Linked DNA regions of Homo sapiens: regions 2 and 3 are each linked to region 1. Evidence: fine-mapped expression QTL. A gene starts in region 1. Each other region holds a variant in brackets. All regions are shown on one strand. Distances are between the middles of the regions. Region 1 holds the start of POLR1D (RNA polymerase I and III subunit D). Region 2 has its middle 24 kb from the start of POLR1D. Region 3 has its middle 45 kb from the start of POLR1D.

Region 1 (8,184 bases):
TAAAATTAGCAGCTCAGTATCACTGACTGGATAAAGTCCAAATTTCTTAATCTGGTATAAAAAATCCTTCATTTTTCTGTTCAAGTCAATTCAGTAAATATTTTAGTGCCCAATGTAAGCAAGAAAAGGTGCCAAGTGTTCTGAAATGAATAATACATGTCCCTGACTACTACCTCCACCTCGGACACTGGGTCCTTCGGCCAGACAAGCCCATATGCAAAGCTCGTAATACAACAGCCCAAAGACACATACATTTATTTTTAAGTGGCCTGCGTGCTACGTGCCTACAATGTACGAAATCCCAAACCAATCTGAAGACTAAGTGCCTACGTAACACCTATTCTTACAGGTCTCCAGGCAGAAATGCTCCCTAAGTTCAAATTACTTCAGGGTAACTAGTGGGATAAAGGCATGGATCAGTTTCCAAATGAGAAAACTGGGCAAGAAGCAACCCCCGCCATCAATGGCTGGCATGCAGTAGGTACTTTATCAGTGGCTAAATGAATAAATAATGAAAAAATTTCAAAGTTGATGAGAGAAACAAGATATATGGAGAATGTAACACACAAGTGGGCCGAATTAAAAGTGATGTTATTCTACTTTGGTTCTCATTTGGCCTACTTTTACCCCATGGGAAAACTCACATGTGGGACTCGGACAAGCTAAAAAGCCAAAACTTTGTTATTCATGGCTCAACAAAGCTTTGACAAGCCAAAAAGGATACCAGATTCCCGCTTCCTTCTTTACCTGCCAAAGTCCATTTTCTAAAGAGGTGTGGGGGTGGGAATCAAATCTAGCAAAGTAAATAAAATTGATCTACTGAGATCCAACTTCATTAGTGCTGCATCGAAGTACATGCAAAAGAAATATCAAAACCTGTCCTGGGAAGAAGGCCAATTTACAAGTAAGTACTATTGCCGCAAGAATGTGAAATTCTTAAAGGCAGTTCCAATAAGCTGGAGCTCACAAGTGTTCCTCCTCCTGCACCGCCACCGCTTTTCACTCAACTTTGTTTCTGATTTCTGTGATTTTAAAAAGCATAATATACACAGCAAAGCCCATGCATAAGTGTACTTTAGCTCCTGGTACAAACGAACGTCTGGATTCATAAACTTAACGTAAACTGAAATACTAAAAGAAACACTACATGAGTCAAAAGTCCTTGTTTAAAACGTGGCATACAGCTTTGAAAAGCGAGTGATGTATTTCCTGAATGATGCTTTGTGTGCAACTGCTTCCAAATCAAGATTCATATTTTTAAATTACCCCCTGGAAGATGTCAAATCTCTCTCCCACCCTCTCCAGCCTAAAGAGAAAGGTGAGAATTCACAGGCAACAGGCTGGGGCGGAGGGAATGATCTCTCCCCATCCCTTTCCAGAGAACAAAACCCGATAAAGGCAGCTAGTGCCACTCTCATTGCCGACACCACACACACACAGAGGAAATTTAAACACTCACCCCACCTCTCCCTTCCCTTAAGAAGCAAACGACGCCAAGCTCTGCACCACGGTGGCCGGAACCAGCAAACGCTAACAGCCGGAGGCCGCCCGCCTCCCGGGCGCCTGCAGGCGGCGGGCACCGGGCGCCGACTCTCCCTCCTGGACCAGACCCACACCCGAGTCCACGCCAGCCCCGCAGCCCGGGCGAGCGAAGACAGCCGCGAAGGACCAAGGCTCCGGGGCGAGCTGTGGCGCCGCTCCGGCCGCCTCCCGGGGCGCGGCGCTGACCCACACCCAGCTGACGCCCGCACCTGAGGCGGCTGCCCGCAGCCAGCGAGAGGGCGCGCAGCGAGGCGGGCAGGGCAAAGTTACTCACTGGGAAAGCGCGGCTGCCCGGGCCGCGCACGGGCTCCTGGCGCCGCTGCTCGGCACCAGCTCCCGCTCTCCGCGGCCCGCTGAGGGAGCGGAGAGCCTGCCCGGCTCCGCTCCGCCAGGAATCGCCGCCGCCGCCGCCGCCGCCGCGGATTTCCTGGCAAAAAGCAAACTCCGGCCAAGACTTCACTTCTCAACCGCCCCTGCTGCCTTCCCGGGGGCAGCGCCAAGGCCGAGCGGCCCAACCCGCACCCGGGCCAATCGGAGGTAGCACAGGGCGGGAGGTGGGCGGACCAGAGGGCGGCTCCACCTATCCGAGAGCTCGGGAGGCGGGCCAGAAGGGACCCGTCACTCCCGGGTTAGAGTGAGACCACTCCGCCCTCGCCGCCCGCCTCCCCCACTCGCCCCGGGCTGTCCCCGCCGCCCGCCTGATTCCCCTGCGGAAGCCCCGCTGGCTAGGTGTCTGCGCGCACCCCCGGCCGCCGCCAAGAGTGGCACAGCTGGGGAAGGAGTGAACATCCAGAGGAATCGCGGGGCGGGGTGGGGGGAGGCCAGGAGAACAGGTGGCGCAGGGAAGCAGAAACGTAGTTGCGCTGGACAGCTGGAGTCGGGCAGGGTCGGGGCCAGCGGCGAGGGGACAAGAAGGGCCGATTCGAGAGGAAGCGCACCTGAGGGAGCACAGCGAAGGCCGGGACGCAGGGAGCTGGATGGAGAGCGAGCCTGGGCGGCGAAAGGTTGCCGAGGCGGGGGCTGGGCGCCTGGGAACAAAGGTGAGGGCGGGTTCCGCAGGTGAGGAGGTTTGAGGAGCCACTGGGGAGAAAGGGAAAAGGAAGTCTACAGCCGGAGAGGACGCGCTCTGGGGGTAGAAGGAATCCTAGGACGGAAAGGATAAGGTGGGAAACAGTTTTCTCCCAAACTCTCACTCCCCCAAAAGAGACATTTCTTTCTTGCCCTATTTTGACCCAGTTGAAAATGCAACTGCAAGCTCCCCGGTGAAACAAATACCGCCTTCAACCTTCGTATTCTGTGGTGACTCATCTCGCACGTGACCCCCCTCCCTCTTCAAGGTGTGTTGACCGACTACAGTTTAAGCCTGTCGTCCCACAAAAGGCCCGGGAGGGCCGGGGTCCCAGGAAGGGCCATCCTGGGTCAACACCGCCCCAGTTGGGAAGTCGGGCCGCTTTCGGACTTGCCACTGGGAAGGGAAGTGATTTGGGGGCGGCAGGTAAGGCCGCGCCCCTTCGCCATCACCTGGGGAAAGGTACCAGAGTTGAGCCGGGGCGCCCGCAGGCCTGTCTGGGCCTCGGGGTAAGGCGGCGCTGGCCCCGCCCCCTGCCCCTCCCGCCGCGAGTGGCCTCGCGTGGTCGCCCAGGTGAGCCGCGGGGCCGCGAGCCACCGCTCACCCCGCGTCGGGGCGGGGGCTGGGGGTGGAGCCTCATGCCCCGCCCCGCGGCTGGGCCCTGCCGCGCCGCTGCGGCTCCTCCTCCCTCCTTCCGTCCTCCGCGCCTTCCGTCGGTCGGTCCTTGCTTCCTGCTTCGCCTCCGCGCCTCGCGCTATGGGACAGAGCCCCCGATCCGCCAGCACCACCTGAGGATCCAGAAACCGCCCCAGCGATGGAAGAGGATCAGGAGCTGGAGAGGTAACGGCCGAGGAGGAGGCGGGCGGAGCGGGCCGCGCCCAAGGGGAGCGGGTGGCCGAGGGGCACGCTGCCTGGCCTGGCAGCCGGGGCCTGACTCGGGGCGCAGAGAAGAAGCATGGAGAGAGAAGTGGGGAGGAGACATGAATGTGTTTCAGTTGAGAGGCTGAGAGGTACACTAGCTATCAAGGAGGGAAGACAAGTTGGGAGACCAGAGTTAAGTATCCGAACTGCCCACCCCCGTTACAACAGCAGTGTGTAAAAATCACGCCCCGGGCCTCTGCTCCTGAGGACGGTACTCGTGCCTCTGTCCCTGTAACTACGGCTCACCTTCTTTCTATGTGCAGACTGCTCCTAAAGCCACTCTGTGCGCTGAGCTCTTTTTCTCCCTGCTGCTTGACTCCTGAACCTTCCATTCTCCTAGTTTCCTTCTCTTGCAAAATGGAAGCCGTAGTTGGGCCTGCACATTGATCATCTGTATCCTCTATTTTTATACTAGAGCAATCGGGATTTCTATGCCTTTCAACCCTCTCTTCATCCTCTAGCAGGACCAGTCCTATTCTAATCCTATCCCTTGCTTGTGACTCTACCAAAAAATATTTTTGCAAACACTTAAGTTTGTGTTTTTCTAAGAAAACTCCCCTTGTGGCCAGTGTGGATGGTCAAATGGAGCAGGGAAAAACTGGAGGCAATAAATTAAATATTTATTGATAGAGTTTGTGGAGGCAGGAAAATGAGAGGCGAATAATTCTGTGTAGCTGGAGTAGATTAATAATAATGTGTTGCAATGTGATATAGTAAATGAGAAAAAGCTAGTTACAAAACAATATTCAGTATGATCTCATTTTTATAAAAAATATGTGTGTAGAAAAATATCTGGATTGAAGACCTCAATGGCTGAAGGCGAGAGGAAGACAGCCCTGGAAATGGTCCAGGCAGCTGGAACAGATAGACACTGTGTGACATTTGTATTGCACGAGGAAGACCATACCCTAGGAAATTCTCTACGTTACATGATCATGAAGAACCCGGAAGTGGAATTTTGTGGTTACACTACGACCCATCCTTCAGAGAGCAAAATTAATTTACGCATTCAGACTCGAGGTACCCTTCCAGCTGTTGAGCCATTTCAGAGAGGCCTGAATGAGCTCATGAATGTCTGCCAACATGTGCTTGACAAGTTTGAGGCCAGCATAAAGGACTATAAGGATCAAAAAGCAAGCAGAAATGAATCCACATTCTAGTCCTTTATGCAGTATACAAGGAGAACTGTCCTGTAGGATATTCTCTTCCTGATGGTGCAGAACCCAGAATTAGAAGTTTGTGGTTACAGCATACTCTGTCCTTCAGAAAGGCGTGATTCTAGCTGTTGACCCCTTGCAGCTGTTGGAATCTCTGCAAGAACCTCTGTATTCTTCTAATAAATTCCCTCTTTTATTTAAACTAGTTTGACTGGTTTCTGTTCCATGCAACCAAATGGTCCTTGAGGATGACTTTTTTTCTAATTAAGCCAGCATTGAAAATGAGGAAACTGAGAATATCAGAGGCCTAGACAAGAACTGTGATCATGGGAATTAAAAGAAGTATATATCCATGTCTGTAGTTGGAGTGGTGGGGGTAAGGGAAGAGACAAAAACCATGACCCCAGTTAGATTGTTGTTTAAAAACAGAAGGAAAGAAGATTGGGGTGGGGACTTGGCTTCTTGCTAAACTTTTTGGCTTTTAAAGAATTGCATCATTTGCTGTGATTGGTAGACTTGGCAAGGGTGGGAATAATTTGGAAGAAGTGTGAGAATTCTGGTTTTACATGAGAGTTTTAGGGAGTAAGGCTCCATCTTTGAGGCATTTACAGGAAAGATACCAGTTTACTGCTTGAATTTTGGGATATACTTAGTCATGATCTAAGTAAGGTAAGATGTTTTGATTATATTACAGAAGGAGAAAATTGGGATGACTAGAAAACATTTTCAGTCCTTAAGTAGGTATAGCCTAGGGTAATGTAGAAGAAGCCCTATTTGAGAGAAGGTAAAGCCAAGGAGAAGGAAAATTCCATATAGGGGAAATGACTGTTTTGGAAAACACATATCCCACCCGCCAGTGCTCTGTGCTTTGGGCCCTTGTTTATCTATCCCCTCTTCCTGGGCCAGTCTTACTCCTGCCGTACTCTTAAGTCAAAGCTTATGTGTCAGGCCTCTCAGCCTAGTTTGGGTACTTCTTTGTGCTTTCATTACACCCTGTGTTTCCTGGCCTTGGCATTTACTATGCTATTGGTAGTGCTTATCTTGTTTACCCACTAAACCAACTTGGAGGTCAACATGATTCTGGTACCTGGAACACCTGACAGGTAGTGGACACTTAGTAAATACTCTATGAATTCATGTAAGTAGTTATGGCATGCAGCTTTTCAGTCACTCAAACCTGACCTCTTACACTAGCGTGCCATAGAGCCTACATTTCCTACACTCAGCCAAATTCTTTAAAGAGATATCCATATTTTTGAGCACTAGTATGTTCCAGGCCTTGGGGATAGATATATAGCTATAGTGGATGAGACAGAGTAAGTCCTGTTCTCATAAAGCATGTGTTATAAGAGCCCCTTAAAAAAAAATTGTGAGGCTCGGCATGGTGGCTCACACCTGGGAAGCCAAGGTGGGAGGATCACTTGAGCCCAGGAGTTTGAGACAAGCCTGGGCAACATGGGGAGTCCCTGTCTCTACAAAAAAATAAAAAAGGTAGCCAGGCATGGTGACACATGCCTGTAGTCCCAGCTGCTTGGGAAGCTGAGGCGAGAGGATATCTTGAACCTAGGAGGTTGAGGCTGCAATGAGCCATGATCACACCATTGCACTCCAGCCTGGGTGACAGAGGGAGACCTTGTCTCAAAAAAATATATAAAATTAAAAACTTGTAATTCTGTAAAAGCAGCAAATGTAGGGTCAAGATAGAAAACATAAGAAAGGAATCTACTTTAGGCACGGAAGTTAGGAAAGGTGTTCTAGAGATTACAGGAAGGGAGAGAGCTGGCTGTGCAAAGAGGAGAGAAAATGCATTCTGGGGGTATAGCATGTGCAAAGGTCCTAAAGCAGAAAACTGGTGGCATGAGGAACTGAAGATATTGAACAAAGATTTGCATGTTTTTGTAGCACAGTAGACAAGGAGAAGGGCCTGTCCTCTGGAGTCCATGGGAGGAAGAGTTGGGGTAGTAGGGATTTTGGATTTTAGGTTCAGTGGGAATGACGTCTTCTTTACTTTGATTACAGAGTGGGGGGAGATGAATTATAGGGAGGCTGGAGTAGAAGCAGAGAGAGACACTATAAAGAGTTGAAGTGGCCTGGAAGGGTAGAAGCTAGTGATGGAGAAGAGAAGGTAGGTTTGAGGTATATTTTAGAATTGAATTGGCACAGAATTGGTACACTTCAGGAACTGTGGAAGATGAAGAATCAAAGATGACTACTGCCTAGCTTTGGGGCCAATTACTGAAATTGGGAAGCTTAAAATGGAAAATAGATTGGGAGGTGGAAAAGATGATAGGAGTCAAAAGTTTCATTTGTGAACATTGTAAGCAGTGGCTATGTGAGTTGGAGATCGTGGAAGAGATCTAAGCTGGAGACAAATTTTATGAGTCCTTGCCATAAAGATGACATAAATTGATTAAAAAAAAAAAAATAGAGGGTGACAAAGAAGTGGGCCCAGAACAAAGCCCTAGGCAACTTCAGTATTTAAAGTTTGGGTCAAAGAAGAGTTAAAGATAAGAGTATTTGTAAGTTTGGGTCAATGTAATGGTAGGAAAGTGCAAAAATAGGGTGTGGAAGCCAAGGGTTTCAAATAGGGAATAGAAAAATGTCACCTGGAGTTAACGTGGAGGTCACTAGGCAGTAACAGCATTAGTTTACTGCCTAAGAAGAGTAAACATTACCACTCATTATACAGAGGAATGGCTTAGTTTGGTTTTCCAATAAAAGAATCACATGAAGACATTGGAAGAGGTGAGTTTAGGCGGGAGCAGGGATGTCATAGGGCAAGGATACAGCATATTCTCTTATGGTGACAGTAAGAAATTCTGGAAAGTCAATGTTTGTTTAAGGGCATTAGCCTTTGAAGATAAAAGGAAGCTCAAAAAGGATGTGGAAAAGGATTAAAAACTTTTTTCCTCTCCCAAAACTTTGCCTGTGGGGATAGTAAACAGAATTACTTACCTGGAGTTTAATTCCTCTAAACCAAGGCCTGTCAGGAGATGAAAACAAAGTTTAATTAGTGGACATCAAGGTACAGACTGATGATAGTAGATGAAGTACAGTGGGAAACACAGCCAGAGGCGACCGCTCACCACATCACAACTTCATTGCACCTAAAAGAATTTAGACTGATCACGTAGAATGCAGTCTTGAATGTCTTTAGGGTGACCATAAACTCACGGGTTCATACAAAACACCTGCAGAAGGCAGTTGGGTGGAGGGAAGAAACTGAGAAGGGGGCAGGCAGGTTAACCAAGAGTCTTGTATATGTGAAAGGAATCTGCATAAAGTCTGTAGGGACCTGAGGGAAAGCTGAGTTGGTCCAAAAAGGACTAGGGAGATGAATGTGAATCTTATACATCCTGTGAAAAGTTAATCCGCATCTGATTTGCACTCCAATAGCATTTCATTCTAAATAAACTCATGCCAGTGATTCAAGATCAGAAATTCTCTTCAGCTGTAAAGTACTGTGACTTTTAAAAAGCTGATTATTAAATATAT
Region 2 (8,184 bases), 23 kb after region 1:
GATAAGCCCCAAGTCAAAGTATTTACAAGGCTCTTTTTCCTATAATTTGCAAGGAATGAAATCACTTTTAATTTATATGAAAATCTTGATTATAACAATATAATTAGGGACTTTATTAAAATCAGTGCAAGAAAATAAGTTTCATGGAATATATACGAAATATTTCTGTCTTTCCACATTAATCCAAATATTACCATTAATCCAAATATTAATATTAATCCAAATATTCAGCCATTTCAAAAAATGGCTGAAAATATTTTTTATTTTGTTATGATGAAAGCATATTTGTCAAGATAGGAAGAAGAAATATATTTAAATATTTTTAGCTTATTTTATAACTTTTACATGTTTGGAAATATTGTATGGGGACTTCATGTGCCCCTCAGTGGGCCTATAAGAAAGGAGCAGTTACATCTATTGATGTGGAGCAAACAGGGAGATCGGGAAAGGCTTGGTGGAGAGGTAATGTGAGAGCTGAGTGTCTGGTGTAAAGGTTGTGAGTGGAGAGTGATTTGGACAGAGGGCATAACCTGGGCAAAGCTCCCCCGTGCATGTAACAGCAAATGTAGTGTTGGCAGTTGGTGGGAGTGTCTAAGCCATGTTATGTCTCTGGACTGTCAGAGCCAAGGCCCTAGATGTGGTTATCCCACAGAGCATCTGTGTGGCAAGGCCTTGCAGAGACAGGCCAGTGGCCCCACTGTGACATCTCACCCTCTCTGTAGTGGCACCCTCCACTCCAACACTAGGCGCTGTCATCTCAAAACACAATTAGCATCTCCACTAAGAAATGGAGTTCAGAGGATGTTAACAGGTATATATATACAATGAAGCAAAAGAATAATATTGGAAGCTAAACAAAGGCCATTTATCTCTGATCAGTAGCTCACTGAAGGGAAAAGTGTTTTCCAGATCTGAAACCTTGCTGAGATTTTCAGACAGCCCTAGTAGATCAAAGTCCTCAATCCTGACAGGAAATATTCCAGCTCTGCCTCATTCTGTGTCCTTGGTCAGTGTCTGTGGTTTCCCAGTCTGCCCTAATGTTTGATGACACTAAGGATACGTGTTGCTGTTGTGCCCCTGTTTGTTTGGCCACTACAGGGGATTGCTCCCTCAGGAACCTGTAGCTCTTCATTTTTTTCATTACATTTATTTACCCAGTGACATACTATATTTTTTTCTTTTATCTTCTTCTCACCTCCTTTGTCTTTCCTCTTCTTCCATCTCACCCATCATCATCTATTCTGTCTACAGATGCAGTATTTTTATTTTTAAAACCTTGCATTTGTATCATGTCCCACACATACCCAGAACCCATTTATTCCCCAGATCTTAACTTAACCATGTATGTGCCAGGCATAGAGAAAACTAGGTTGAAAAAGACAAGTTCCGAGACCTTTAGGAGTGTAAAAAAATAGCTATCATATTTCTTCTGCTTCCTATAAAATACAGAACACTTGGATCCAAATCAAATATTTTATTTTATCCTCATAACAACCCTGTGAAGTAATTATTATCATCATTGCAAAAAGCAATCTGCAGTATCTTTGTCTTATTTTTCCACCACTGCTTAAAATACCACTTTCATCTATCTCTTTAGTTCATGTTGGGCATGAAATCAACAAAGGATCTCATTAATTTTCCTTTCAAACTCATGTTCCTCCATCACCTTCCAGTCTTTTACCAGCATAAGTTCTTCTTAAAAATTCAGCACCTTTTCTCATGACTTTCTGTTTGTTATTTTATAAATGAATATTGGAGCTCCCTCCTCACATTCTCCTAGATAATCCAGTATTTGTTTTTAAAGTACATATATGGCTCTTTATTTTATATGCAGGCCCTAATAGCCTCTTCAGGGAAGAGCCTAATTCACCGTATAAATCACAGTACCTTGTATTTAGCAAGTGCGTAATGTAGATTAGCTGAATTTAACAAAATGTGCAGATTAATTTATTGTGCCTTTAGTTTATGTCTGTGAATAAGTCTTTTCATTTCCCAAATAACCTCAGTGTTCCTATTGAGTTTTACCTTGTCTTTAAAAACGCTTTTCACAATTTGAATTTTTGTACCTTTCTTTAGAGCTGATACATGACCCCAGACAATCTGATATTTTACTGAAATTAAATAAGGATATTTCTGAATTTTTGCCTGTGTCTGTAGTCAAAACACTAAGTCATAAAGAACCCAAACTTTGTCCTGTGGTTTCTACAGATCCCTATGACTACTAAACCACTAGTTACTACTGGCAGTGTGAACCTATAAGCAGTGGTTTGCAGATGTTCAGAGTGATCTGATCATCTGTCTATATTTTTTTAATCAATGACCTGACATCAAAACTTTACTGAAGATCGAGTAGATAGTTCCATTTTTCTCTCTAAGCTTTATCATTCCATTATGGGAAGAAATTTAGATTGCCATAGTAAGGTTTCTTTTACACGTATGTGGACGACTCCACAAGTATAAACATGTTTGCCTTCAGCACTGATAATGTGTTGGGCCTTTTAGATAACTTCCCAGTCAACAGCAGCAAATGATGCTGTACTCATTTCTGCCAATTTTCTAAGAAGTCTGTATTCTTGTCACCAAGTCATGCTTGTTTGAACACATCAAGAAGAGAGTAGTCTTATTAAGCAATGTATTGCCTTTTTTGAACCTGTTTTTCTGTCCATCATGTGACAGATACTGTACTATACAGCTAGCTGATCAAAGGTGACTTTTAAAGACTGAGAGAGACACAAATGAGGAAAGCTTCTAACGTTCAGCCTTGTGTTCCTAGCTTTCCTTCACCATCACAGGAAGAGGCCTATAGTTCCCTCTGGCTGACTCCATCATTTTTGAGCAGTTATTTGAGATTTAGCTTCTCTGATTTTATTCCTTTAAAATTCCTGTTTTCCTACTTTATTATTTAATTTTCCTCTCAATTTCTGGTGCTTTATTTCAGTTGCCTTCAATTTCTTGCTACCCCTTCTGTACACTGGAACAGTTAACCCTCAGTTGATTAAAGTGATTAAAAAGAAACAGACCCAGATAACTCAAAACTAATTTGTTTGACTTTGGATTTTAAGATGATTTTGTACCAGATTTGCATTCCTACTTGGGTTTTATTTAAGCTGCTATTATGATCAGTTGACATTCCTTAAGCATGTACCAGCTGGCTAATGGAGTGAACAGGCAGGCCTGAGGAAGCTGTGCTAGTATGGAAAATTGGCTGGAGATAATACACACATGGATCATTGAAAATTGATTGTGGTTTGTTCCTGTGCCCAGAAAACCGTCTGCTTAATGACTCAGCTCTCTTGGGTCTCCATGGAACTTAGTATTCTAATATAATTAATTAGTTTTACAAAGAAACCTTCAAGATATTGAAAAGAACCAAGTGTAAAAACTAGCATACCAAGAACTAAGTTTATGTCTGAATAATTTTTTAATTGTTCAAGTTCTGTATATACTTAGTTCTTATATATTCTCCTATTTGCTTTTCCTGTATTTTAATTACAGTTTATACTTCTTTCATCACCTCATTAAAAACTATCTTGTTTCATGCATGTTAATGTTTCATAATCTTTGATAATTTAAGTTATTTTGCCCCTGTGATCATGTAGAATAGAAACTGGATTTATAATTTCCTTACCCAATAATTCATTAATGAGATTTCTAGAGGAAACAACAGAGGCTACAGTAATGGGGAAGTTGCTGACTTTCTCCCCTTAATTTTGAAGGTAGTTATAGTGTTTTAAGGTTGGGATACTTGATTGCTAAGAATTGTTTTCTTCTTTGGAAGTAAAGCTCTGTAGAGGGAGCTTATGCAGGAGACTTTTGGGTGGGAAGTAGCGAATGCTCAACATTCTTAGGACAAAATAGTGATCAGTCCTCCTTCATTCCTTCCGCCTCTCCAGTATCAGCCTATCCCCCAGTTCTCTTTGAATGAATGCAGTAGTGGCACTCTGTTAGGCCTTTTTTTTCCCCATTTAGTTTATTTTTTGCCTTTTAATGATAAACAATTTCTCCAGGATTTGCTGCGCAGATATTTGTGGAGGAGATAGTCTAATAGAAGGATCAGATGATACCTAGCCTTAAAAACAGAGGTTGGGTTTTGTTTGCTTTGTTCCTCTTCCTCATTGCCCTTCTCCTTGATCGTTAGCAGTGTTACTTTGGGCAAGTTAGTCGATGTCTCTGAATATCACTTTCCACATCTGTATTGGTGGTAATAACTATGTTATCATGGTTATATAGAATAGTACTTGGTATACTTAAAGCTCTATATCTTCATTAGTTGTTG[T/C]TAAACCAATTGCAGATACCTAACTTGGGTAGATCCGAACCATGGGAATGGGTCACGCTGCACCACTTTGGCTGTGAACAGCAGCTAAGCCCCCTTTACCAGTGGGAACACGGTAGACAAGCTGACTGAGTGCCCTCCCACCCAGTATCTACTCCTCCTTTTATGGTCCTCCATCCTTGGTGAATTTGTTTCACCGCAGGCAGTCTTTCTCATACATATATCTTCTTTTCTCTTTGTACTCGTAAACCAGAAGGCATCCTTAAGCGTGCCAGGTAAAATTAATAACAGTGCTAGAGACAGTTTTAAGTAGAATCGAAACTAAAGAAGAGTCACTGTCAAACTTCAAGCTCTTGAAAGCACCTAGAATATGCCTTCAGGGTCTCTGCAAGAATCTTTACTGAGTATCTTCTGCAGATGTATAGCATTTCAGCTGGATTCTGACTCAAATAAGTTTCTATAGTCTGGTCCAGAAAGCTAGGCAAACATTTTAACATAGTTTTTATGGGAAAACACATTCTAGTTTATTTGTAACTGATACATATTTTGTTCATAATTGGGGAACTGCCCCAAAAAGTTGTTTTCCTGATTATTTTTAACCATTTCTTTTGACAGAAGGAGAGCACATAGGTGGATCTAGGTATGATTTATCTTTTTATTTTAAAACTACCACACTAATTTATGGGAAAGGAAGAGGCATATTTGGAATATTTATACCCTTTAATTTTTTTACTTAAATCTATAAGGGTGAAAAACAATCTGTTTTGGACCTTATTAGGATAAATTTTGCTTGAACTGTAAGAGACAAAGTCCCCAGATCATTTCAGCAGGCCATATCATTATTCTAAAGAGCTGGAAGAAGCAGCATATGTGGTCATCAGATGAACTTACCTCTTTGTGATTCCATAAGAGGTTGGGCTGCGAAACTTGTGATTGAGGGAGTCAACATGTCAGTAGATAGGCAAGCGCTTTAGTTTTTCATTGATCTGTAGCAGTGGGCCTTCCCAAGAAGGATCAGAAAATGTCAAGCTGCTGAGTTAACTGAAAAGACATCTTTTAAAGATCTCAATAAGAGTTTATTTTAAAATGAGTTACACAAAAATAAGCAGATGTATTTTTGAAGATTAAGAGGTGGTGAAATAGTTTGAAAGCATAGTATTAGGAATATGGAGGTAAATAACGAGAAACAGATGAAAAAAGTTGAAATTGTTTTCTTTGGTGGGTAGGGCAGGATAATTTAGAAGACTGTTGTATTTAAAATCTTTTAAATAATATTTGTCTTTTTAAACTATGTGCATGCTTTACTTTGATAAAAATCAACATGAAATAAAACATTCTTGTAAACAGAATGTTAATATCATTTGAAGATTATATAGTATATGGTAGCATTATAATAGTGTCATAACATTTTAATATAGACTCTATATAATTATCCAGCTTCAAAAATTCATGATTAGATTTATAGTTCTGTCTTTGGACTATATTTGTTTTGGACTATATTTGTTTATACCTCTCTTTTTCTTAACTTTATTTTTTCTTAACTTTGTTATTGATACATCATATTCAAGTCAGGGACGATCATCTTCCTATGTTGCTACCCATAGCACCTTGCACAGTATCTTACACATAGTAAAGTCTCAGAATATGGTTGATAAATATGTTTTCTGTTTTTTTAACCTCTTCAAAAATTACACAAATAATACATGTTCATTGTAGAAAAAATAGAAAATGCAGCAATGCAAACAGAAAAAATCACCTTAAAACTCATCTTACTGTTTTGATAACATCCCTCCAAATTTTTTTATTATTATTATTTTTATTTTTTTTAGAGACCAGGTCTTGCTATGTTGCCCAGGCTGGTCTCAAACTCCTGGCTTCAGGTGATCCTCTCACCTCACCCTCCCAAAGTACTGGGATTACAGGCATAAGCCACCACACCTAGCCGTCTCCAAATGTTTTTCTATGTAATATATATGTAAATAAATTTGAAATTAAGGTTATTCTACACATATTCTTTTGTACCAGCTTTATATACTGAATATGTTATGAGTGTCCTGTGCCAAAAATTCATTTGTCTTCATTTTTAATGACTGCCTAATCTTCCACATATGTGGATATGTTATGATTTATTTAACCAATCCTTTATCAGTAAATATTTAAGTTTTCTGTTTTTTCTTTAATTGTTAACAAGTAGTTTGAATATCCTTGTACATATACTTTTCCATACTTATTTGAATATTTTCATAGGACAAAGTAAAAAATTTTTAGATCAACTGGTATATACTATTCTTAAGGTTCTTTATTATGTTGCTGGATTGTCCTCCAGAAATGTAATATCAGCTTCAGTCCCCATTAGTAGAGAAGAAGTTATCCATTTCTCTACCCCCTCACTAACTAATGGGCAGAAACATTTATCCTTGTTGAGTTCACTGGTATTTCTTTGAATAACAGTGAATTTGAAAAAATATAGATATATACATATTTGGCTGTTCATGTCTTTTGGTTATTCAAATTAATAAGAAAAGATAATTCTTATATTAAGGATATATGATTTAACTGTCTCATATCAAAAATATTTTTCCAGTTTGTAATTTTTTTCTCTTCAATGTTGCTTCTCTTTATATTAATAGTTTCTTTTTAATTTATGTGTTCAAAATTGTCAACCATTTAAAAAAAAATTTGCCCCAGCAATCATGCTTCAAAAGTTAGTTCCTTTCCCAAGATCATGGACCTGGAATGAATTGATTTTCAGAACTTAGTAGGGTGACTGCCTCTCAAATCTTTTCCTTTTTCTTATCAGGAAAGCAATAGAAGAACTGCTTAAGGAGGCAAAACGTGGGAAAACTAGAGCTGAAACAATGGGACCCATGGGTTGGTAAGTTCTTTGAGTAATCTTCCTTAAAACTTAAGAAAAAATTCTTAGCTGGAGATATAAATATGTAAATCTTTAGCATATAGAGGAAATGGGAAACCATGGAAGCAGAGGAAATCTCTCAGAGACAAGTGTAGAGTAAGACACTGCTGAGAACTGAATGTTGAGAAACTCTAATAACATGAAGAAATGGGCAGCAGGCGCCTATGGAGGATACGCAGTATAGGTTCATTGTCCCTTTAGTTCACAAGTCTCCAAGAGGTATTTAGATACTACTGTGCGCAAAGTCACCTGTGCAAGAGTAATATTATGTTGGTGTTCATTGTTTAAGAATTTCTAGTTTACTTATAGTCCTTAGTAAATTAAAATTTATTTTAGGAAATTAATTTTAACTGTAAGCATTTTGATTATGTGACAATTCAGCCATGTAGAATTAAAGATTACCTTTGCAGATTATGTACAAAATAGAGCTTGTTAAAACTTAATAATATGGGCTGGGCACAATGGCTTATGCCTGTCATCCCAGCACTTTGGGAGGCCAAGGTGGGAGTATTGTTTGAGCCCAAGAGTTTGAGAATAGCTTGGGCAACATAGTGAGACTTCATCTCTACAAAACAAACCAAAAAAAACACCCTTCTAGGCACTACTTTAGTGATGCCATTTGCATTTGATGAATTTGTTGATTCTGGAATTTATATCTACAGTTAAAAACGTACTGCAATGGAATAAGGAGGGTCATTAAAAAGAGTAAAATGTAAAAATGTGAAAAGAGTAGAAGCTAAACTTCTGAACATAGCTCATTTTGTAATTTTGACATTTAGAACCATGCACATAGTTCACCTAAATTCCAAGACAAAAATTAAAATGGAAAAGATAATACCTAAAAATCAAGCAAAATAAAACATGGACCTGATAAACCATTGAGTGGATGGCTTAGCTACATGGAAAGAAACTATTTCAGGTGATCTGGAATTTGACTATATTTCCAAAAGATAAAAAATAACTACAAAGAAATTGTTTTCAGTCATCATATTGTTAG
Region 3 (8,184 bases), 44 kb after region 1:
ACCATGCTAAATGCCTTATACATTATCTCATTAAATCCTCACAATAACTTTATAAGGTAGATACGTCTGTTATTCCCATTTTGCAAGTGGGGGAAACGAATGCAAAGAGGAGTTAAGTAACTTGCTTGTGATCACACAGCTAATTAAATAGTAGGCTGTGAACCAAAACTGAAATTAACCAAATGCCTTTATGTGTCAGGCATTGTTCTGAGTACTTTACATGTTCTAATTCATTTGATCTGCATGCAACCCTTTAAGATAGTCGCCATTATTATCCCCACTTAACAGCTAAGAGGCAGCAGGGAGATTACATAACATGCCCAAAGTCCAGTCTGTTAGTGTGATTCCAGAGCATGTGTGCCCAGCCACTGTCTCATGTAGTGTGATTTCTTAGCAATGAAACAACCAACTGTGAGATTCAGCAAAATTAATTTCTACCTTAAAGGCCAGAGAAGCTCTCCCCACTGATTCCCTCAGACATTGGTTTTGATGTTGCCGTCCTTAGACTTGGATCTATTCTGTGCAGATTTTGGAATTTCTTTATATAAAATGATTTACTATATGTACCTTCACATCTGCTTGCAACTACTGTATCTCATTGCCCTGCCCTATTTATTAGTAGAGTGTGAATGAGCACTTGTCATCACTTCTAAAATGTGTACTGGCATGCCTGGGAGATGTCTGACTTTCAAACCCCACCTCCACCCCACCCCAGTAAACCAAGATCTCCTCAGGCCACCCTTGGCTATTTACCTAGAATAGAATCCCAGGCATAACCAACATTAAAAAACTGCATCTCTGATGTTAAAAGAGATGTAAATGCCAGTTTTCTTGTGGAATTATTCTATAAAACCATCTCATTCTCTGGCTAACTCTTTGGGTCACTATGTTGAGTCAGTGGGTTACACTAGCAGTTGGAAGATAGGTGCAGTCCCCTCTGCCTCTTGGCGTGAATGCTGCAGTTAGTAGCAGGGCTTTGCTCACCTCGAGGAAGCATTTGGTTTTAAAGATGATCTGACATTGAAAACAGCAAAATAGAGTGGAATTCACCAGTAGTTACCAAAGGTTTTGTTCTGAGATCCTGGATTACCATCACGTCTGGGAAAAGTACCCTTCCTTGTTGTTTAATGCAGAGAAGAACTGGCCAGTTTACCACCACTGAGATGGCCCACTTCAGTGAAAAGACCCCAGAATTCTTCTGTTGCTGGACATGTTTCACCAGCTACTCCTAGCCCTATATATCCAAGAGACATATGTAGTTCATTTGTCTATAAAAAAGATTTTGCTCTTGTAGTAAGCACCAGGCCACCATTGCCAAAGACAGGCCCTCTAAGCTTTTTACTCTCTGTGATGGAGGGTAGTTTTTCCTGTAGGCTGTCTGTGTTATGCTGTTTTGGAACATGCCAGTGTTTAATACTGTTCTGAATCATTGCTGAGTTTGCAACTGCAGTGGGTCAAGTGTCTTCACCAAAGCAACGCCTGCATTCAGTAGTACCCTGTCAGACCCTGCAGGAGAACTCGGCTTGCCTCTCATCACGTGCCTGTCTTCCCGCACAGGAATGTCCTAATGCCAGCGTGCCCCCAGGAGGTAGAAATGTCTTTACCTTGAGACTACTAAGGCAGCGTAATGCTGGTGTACCTTTTCTGGAAGCTCTGTGAAGCTCTATAGTTCGTACTTGCAGAACTGTTTTTTCTTTGTTTTTGCCTTTCTTCTTTGCCCTTCGTCTCATTCACTGTGGCTTCTAAACTCCAGAGCTGTCACCACCTCTGAATGTTCCCACTATTTCTGTTGCACTCCACTGTCCTTTTCTTAAATTTTCTAATTTTCCACTGTCCTTTTCTAAGTTTCTCCTTGTTCTAGTTCATTCCTTTGTCACTTTTCTGGCCTGACCATTTTTCTCAGATATTTTCTCTGTCCTTGTAGGCTCAAGAGCTACCTATTTGCAGCAGGAGGTATTTTCTTGTTTTTCTTCCTTTTACTTCCAGATTCAGTGCCATTTTGGTTTTCTGAGATGGTCTGACCTCTGTGAGTGAGGCTATGCTAATGCCTGACTGCTTATACTTCACCTGTACAGTACTAGTCCACACAATTCCTATGTGGAGTGTTGTTGGCTTGATTTTGAAGTATTGTTTGGGGTTCTCTGTAAATCAAAGTTTTATAGAAATGTGGCTATTCTACATTCGTTTTTGTTTAATACCAGCCACCCTGAATAACATGATTTTGAGAATCAGCATACTCCTAAAGTAGCCCATCATATGGCAGACACCTCAAGGCTAAGAGAAATATGAACGTTCTCATTTGTATAGGGTCATCTTTTTGAAAATGAAAGATTTATTAACACCTGAAAAAGATAATACATAGTATATAAGTAGATCTAAGCACATTAATTAGCAATTTGATTGGTTGCAGCCTCTCCTAGGTAAACTTGAATCATGAAGGTACTGAAATATATCCTGCACAGAAATTCACCAGGGCAGGAGATTGAGTAAAGTGCTCCTCCACAGAGCATAGCCTGGCATCCTGAAATAGAAGTGTAAGAATTTTTTTAAGTAAAAGATTATTGCATATTTATGGATTCTTTACACAATTTTTTTATTCTATAGTAGATCCTTTAGCTCCTGTATTTAATATACAGCAGAATATACTTTTTAGTTTCCTTGGAAAGGAACAGTTTTCACTGTCTGGTAATAAAACGCAAGATGCAATAAATTTAATCCAAAATAAGTTACAGTAAAATAGGGCACTTACTAGTTTGAAAGAAAATATTAAATGATTCTGTTAGTTCACAGTGTGGTCAATACCTGTACATATGAACTTCAGTAGGAAATTTAGTCCCAGGAAGGAAGAAAGGTTTAAAGTGTTCCAGCCAGTCTTGTCTCAAGAATTCCAATCGTCTTTTTTTTTCCTCCCTGGTACTCAGAGTTTACACTAGGTGGCATGCAAGGAAAGCTAACAAATTCAGAAACTCGATTCTGTGGGAGCAGGATTCTTTGGTACTAATCACGATAGTGGGTCCAGCTTTGGAGTTAACCATTTGATTTGTGATGGTTTTTCTTTTCTCCTCCCCACCCCAGGATGAAGTGTCCTCTTGCTAGCACCAATAAAAGATTTCTAATTAACACAATTAAAAACACATTGCCCTCTCATAAAGAGCAAGACCATGAACAAAAAGAGGGCGATAAGGAACCAGCGAAGAGCCAGGCCCAGAAAGAAGAAAACCCGAAGAAACACAGAAGCCATCCTTACAAGCACAGCTTCCGCGCTCGAGGTTCCGCCAGTTACTCCCCGCCACGAAAGCGGAGCAGCCAGGACAAGTACGAAAAGCGGTCCAACCGGCGGTGAGGCTGGAACCAGGGCCAGCCAGCCCTGCGGGCCTCCGTGCTCCTTCGGGGTGCGGTGTGCGGAGAAGGCCTGAGCTGGCAGGGCAAACACCTGAGAGTGACTTTGACATTAGGTCCTTTGTTGTTTTTAAAGAGGCTGCTGGCCACAGGCAAAAAAAATGACCTAGCAACTCTTGAGGAAACAAGTGCAAAGGAGGATGTCTTGGCAAGTTTAAGCTACTTCTGCAGTGTAGTAGACTTACATATTGTTGTTTATCTTGTTTGGAAGTGTGTTTCAAAATAAACATGTCTAGAATTTAAAGTTTTCAGAGATTGTTAAAACTGGTTCCAATTTTTTGGTCATTTCTCAGAAAAATAAAATACTTATAAATCCTATATTTTACTTTTTGGGGGTATTACATTTAAAATTTAGAAATCATCAGTCCAGTGACCATATTTATGAAAAGCTGTAGCCCTCCAAGGTCTGGGAATTTATCGAGAAGCTCTTTGATAGCTCTGCATTTGTTTTCCCTTAGGTGAACAATGTAGGAAATCCTCAAAGTGGCTTTGAATTTAATGCTCCACTTCAGTTACCAGAGGTTAAAAATGGGTTTTGTTGTTTCCTGTGCATTCTCAAACTCATTTATTAGATAGAACAATCTTTCTATATTTAATTTTTTTAATATATAGGTCTTAAGTGGTGCTTTAAAAAGAACCCTCACAAGTTAAAAATTAAGAGTTGTTTCAGTGCTAGATCTT[A/G]CCAGCTAAAGACTTGTGATACCACTATATAGTATAGTTGTTCCAGAAATCTTCATTTTAAATAGAAGTGTTTACAATGCCTTTTTTCCCCCAGTATTGGTTTTCAATACCTGTTTTCATATACAATTACAAACCTTTCAAACCTGTATTCCTTCTTTATACTCAGGAAAATGTCACCAAGCACCCTCCTCCCCAGTTCACAAAAGGAAGAAGATGAAGATTCTGTCTCCCTGTTCCCCCTCCCCAGTTTTCCAAAGTGTCTGAGCATATGCCTGGCTGTCCTCAGATCATCACCATGCCACATCCCTGCTCCCTACTTCCTGGCAGCCAAGAAAAGCCCTTTCTACATGCTAGAAGGAAATACATCCAAAAAGTTAGCATTGGAGTGTTAGAAACTAGAATAGACCTCTCCGCCACCGAGCTGCTGTGTCACGCCCTCAGCCTGCTAGGGAGTGACAAGCCCAAGTCATTCTTGATCCACCCCTTCTCCCACCCCAGATCCCAGGGACTCATCCTGTGACTTTGTAACCACACTCATTCCTTTCAAACACAGAGGAGGAATTATTGCTTCATCTGACTTTATTCAAATCTAGTTATGTATTGGCCTAAATTATTTGTGCAAAATTTGAAATGTTTTTTATTTAAATATTAGAAATAGCACAAAGTCATGGAGTTTTTAAAAATTGTTATAATTAAGTAAAAATAAAGCTGAATTGTGTCATTTGTGTATGCATTCTGTATTTATTCATTATTTATTCATTTATTTTGTTTGAGAAGGAGTCTCGCTCTTTTCCCCCAGGCTGTAGTGTGATGGCACGTATCTCGGCCCACTGCAACCTCCGCCTCCTGGGTTCAAGCGATTCTCCTGCCTCAGCCTCCTGAGTAGCTGGGATTGCAGGTGTGCGCCAACATGTGCAGCTCATTTTTGTATTTTTAGTAGAGAGAGGGTTTCGCCACGTTGCCCAGGCTGGTTTCGAACTCCTGAGCTCCGGTGATCTGCCCGCCTCGGCCTGCCAAAGTGCTGGGATTACAGGCGTGGGCCACTGCACCCAGCCTTGCATTCTGTATTTATAACACACAGACAAGTTCATTATCCTTTAAAAGGGAATGACTGAAATGAACACATTTTTGTACTCAAAATTAAGGGAAGCTTTTTAGCCTAACTATACTTACCTTTCTTAAGTTGTGTTAAACGACAGTGGCCTACAAAACCATTTTCCCTTTTAAAAGCACTGTTCTATTTCAGAAAAGTTTATTGGAATCTTTAGGCTTCTATCAAGAGCAGCCATAATTTCCAGTCTAAAAATGTCAAGAGAAAATTATCTATTTTTTATTCCCTATGTATACAGTAGATGTTAGGGGAGGGATTGGTCATGAGATACATTCACCAGCCACCTCCTGTTTCTGTGGTTAACATACTGGCGCTGCCAAGAGCTCCCATCCGCCTGTGTTACTATCTGATCTCCATTGTAACTATATTTAGAGATCACAAAGCCTGGGATAGAGGTTAGAGAAACTGAATCTTAGTCCTGCCTCTGCTTCTGGCTAGCTTCAGGCCTTATCTGGGTCACTTTTCTGGACTGCATTTTTTCATCTGCAAACTAAGATGTTTGGAGTGAGTCTTTAACTTTCAATAGGTAAAGAAAGAAGTGCAAATAGCCCTAAATTTTAGGAACTGCGTTCCATGCTTCCACTAGAAACCATTAAGACTTAAACACAAATGCAACTTGACATAATTTTTTGTTTTATCTCATGTTAGAAAACAGCCTGTAAGAAATATAAGCAAAAAGCTATGGTTCCTAGCCATATCTGGTCACCTATTGGTGGCTAGTCTTTCTGAATCGCCCATTTATGAAGGGGGAGGGACTTAGGGTAGGTCCCTCTGAGTAGGCAGTTTATAAATTTTTATTTGGAAACACATGTTATAAATCTCAGTGGGTTTTACTTTAGGGCTCAGCAGGCTAAGCACTAAAGGACATTTCCTCAGAGCTGATTCTGGAAGATGGCTGTGGAGTTTTGAATTTCCCTGTGGACTTCTTTTTTGCTGAGAGGTTGGCAGGGGGGCAGGGGGCACATTGGCACATCTGCTTCAAAGCATAAAAAATGCTTTGGGGTAGCATTTATTCTTTCACTGATTATTCAAGTGACTTAGCATGGCACTTACATATTTATTTATTTTTTGAGATGGAGTCTCGCTCTGTTGCCCAGGCTGGAGTGCAAAGGCACGATCTCAGCTCACTGCAACCTCTGCCTCCCAGGATCAAGCAACTCTCCTACCTCAGCCTCCCGGGTAGCTGGGACTACAAGGCATGTGCCACCTGGCTAATTTTGTATTTTTAGTAGAGACGGGGTTTCACCATATTGGCCAGGCTGGTCTTGAACTCCTGACCTCAGGTGATCTGCCCACCTCGGCCTCCCAAAGTGCTGGGATTACAGGCGTGAGCCACAACACCCAGCCCATATTTTTACAATTAGTTACATATTCGTCATTCGTAGAGGTCATGCCATCACCTTAGAATCATAAAGAGTATCTGGTGGATAAGCAGTGCCTATTTAATAGACATTATATGAGGTGGGTTCCTGATGAAATGAAGCCTCATCACTTTCCTAAGGAGTGTTCTGTGTCCTGGGATCCAGTATAGAGGACTCCCCTCCCCAGAGGAGCTGAATCTAGGAAACCCATAAATATTCTCCCTATGAGGTGTTTGTAGGCTGTATTGGAACTGTGTGGACAGTAACAGTGATTGTCTATCACCTGTGGCCAAACACTGTTATATCTTTTACCTGTGTTCAGGTAGTTATCCCACAACCCTATGAAGAAGATGCTACTCACCTTCATTTTACAAATAAGGGAAACTGAGGATAGATTAAAAACTTTGCCCAAAATCACAGAACTAGGAAGTGGCAGAAATGCTAGCTGAAGCCAAGACTCTCTGAATCAAAAACCCATACTCTTTCCTGTACCCTATGCCAAACTTAATCCAAACTCGGCTCCCTCAAAACACAGGACGGGAGGGTCGTCTCAAGGTGTATATGCTCCATGTCTTCCCAATTTAAGAACCTAAAGAACTTTTATAATCACTGCATTTTGCAAGCCAAAATCTACTCCCATAGATCAGAACATGGAAGCCCCAGCAAAGAACATTTGTATGGGGAACTGTTTCCCAAGGGCCAGTGTAGACAGCGATCTGAATCCAAGAGAAAAACTCTCACAACTCTTGTGAAATGGTTAAATGGCAGCTAATGGAATATAGCTATGGAAAACTAAAACCTCAGGTGAAGCCAGTATTCTAGATCTTCCATGTTTGAATTTTTTTTTCTCCATCCATAAGAATAGTGAGATTTGGGAGTAAAGAAATCCTTGGGACGCGGCCTCTTTGATACCATAGAAAACATTCTATAATCCAAGGAATTTGAGAAACTATCTCTTGGAAAGCCATGTCAGCAGATCATAAATTGAGCCTCACCCATGGCTCTTCTGAGTCTAGATACTGAGAAGGTTAGTTTGCCAAGTGGAAACTCTTGTTCTCAACATGGAAAAGATGCCCAGGAAGCATGCCCTTTTACACACAGGAACACATAAAGAGGAAAGTAAATTAATCCCCATTAAACTGGCAAGGCAACACTGAAGGCAGAATTCAAAGGCAACTTATACATTTTTATTTGGTAACCCATGTTATAAATCTCAATGAACATTACCATGAAAAGGCCAATAATAAACATGGATTTTGGAGCATCATTAATAGTAAGATGAAAGATGAACTATTTCTCCCATCCATATAGTCCTGTAATATTCACCTTTGGTTTCGATAACTTATAAATACTCTCTATGTGAAACAAATACCAGATATAACACATCATATGAAACACCTGAGGGAGACATTTCTCCTCCACATAAATGTATAGCCTGCCCTAAGTGGTGGTCCCTTGTCCTTCCTGGATTGTTTTTTCTTATTAATTCCTCAGTGGTAGCTCCCTCAAGTTGAACTAGTATATACTGTCCAATTATAAGCCCCTATCTACTCCAAATTACACTCATCAGTCTGCTAAATACTCCTTTCAAAGCTCAGTACCAATTTACAAAGAAAACTCCACAAGACTTAT

What was found. PIP is the estimated chance that this variant, and not a neighbour inherited with it, causes the effect.
Region 2: its variant is fine-mapped to the expression of POLR1D in whole blood (INTERVAL, PIP 0.94).
Region 3: its variant is fine-mapped to the expression of POLR1D in fibroblasts (GTEx, PIP above 0.99). The same link has a PIP of 0.9 or more in esophagus mucosa.

What each region holds. Positions count from the first base shown.
Region 1 is chr13:27,618,559-27,626,742 of GRCh38, forward strand. POLR1D (RNA polymerase I and III subunit D) reads left to right here and starts at 3,334. Exons shown (of 2, transcript NM_015972.4): 1 at 3,334-3,451; 2 at 4,317-4,891. The coding sequence starts at 3,426. The coding sequence ends at 4,692. It overlaps LNX2 (ligand of numb-protein X 2), which reads right to left and starts at 1,971. Exons shown (of 10, transcript NM_153371.4): 1 at 1,817-1,971. RefSeq lists silencers at 1,521-2,410, 3,031-3,590 and an enhancer at 1,999-2,727.
Region 2 is chr13:27,641,306-27,649,489 of GRCh38, forward strand. It overlaps a transcript of POLR1D not described here. Among named protein-coding and RNA genes, the nearest start is that of POLR1D, 24 kb to the left of the region's middle. The variant T/C (reference allele first, on the strand shown) is at 4,277.
Region 3 is chr13:27,662,611-27,670,794 of GRCh38, forward strand. It overlaps a transcript of POLR1D not described here. Among named protein-coding and RNA genes, the nearest start is that of POLR1D, 45 kb to the left of the region's middle. The variant A/G (reference allele first, on the strand shown) is at 4,081.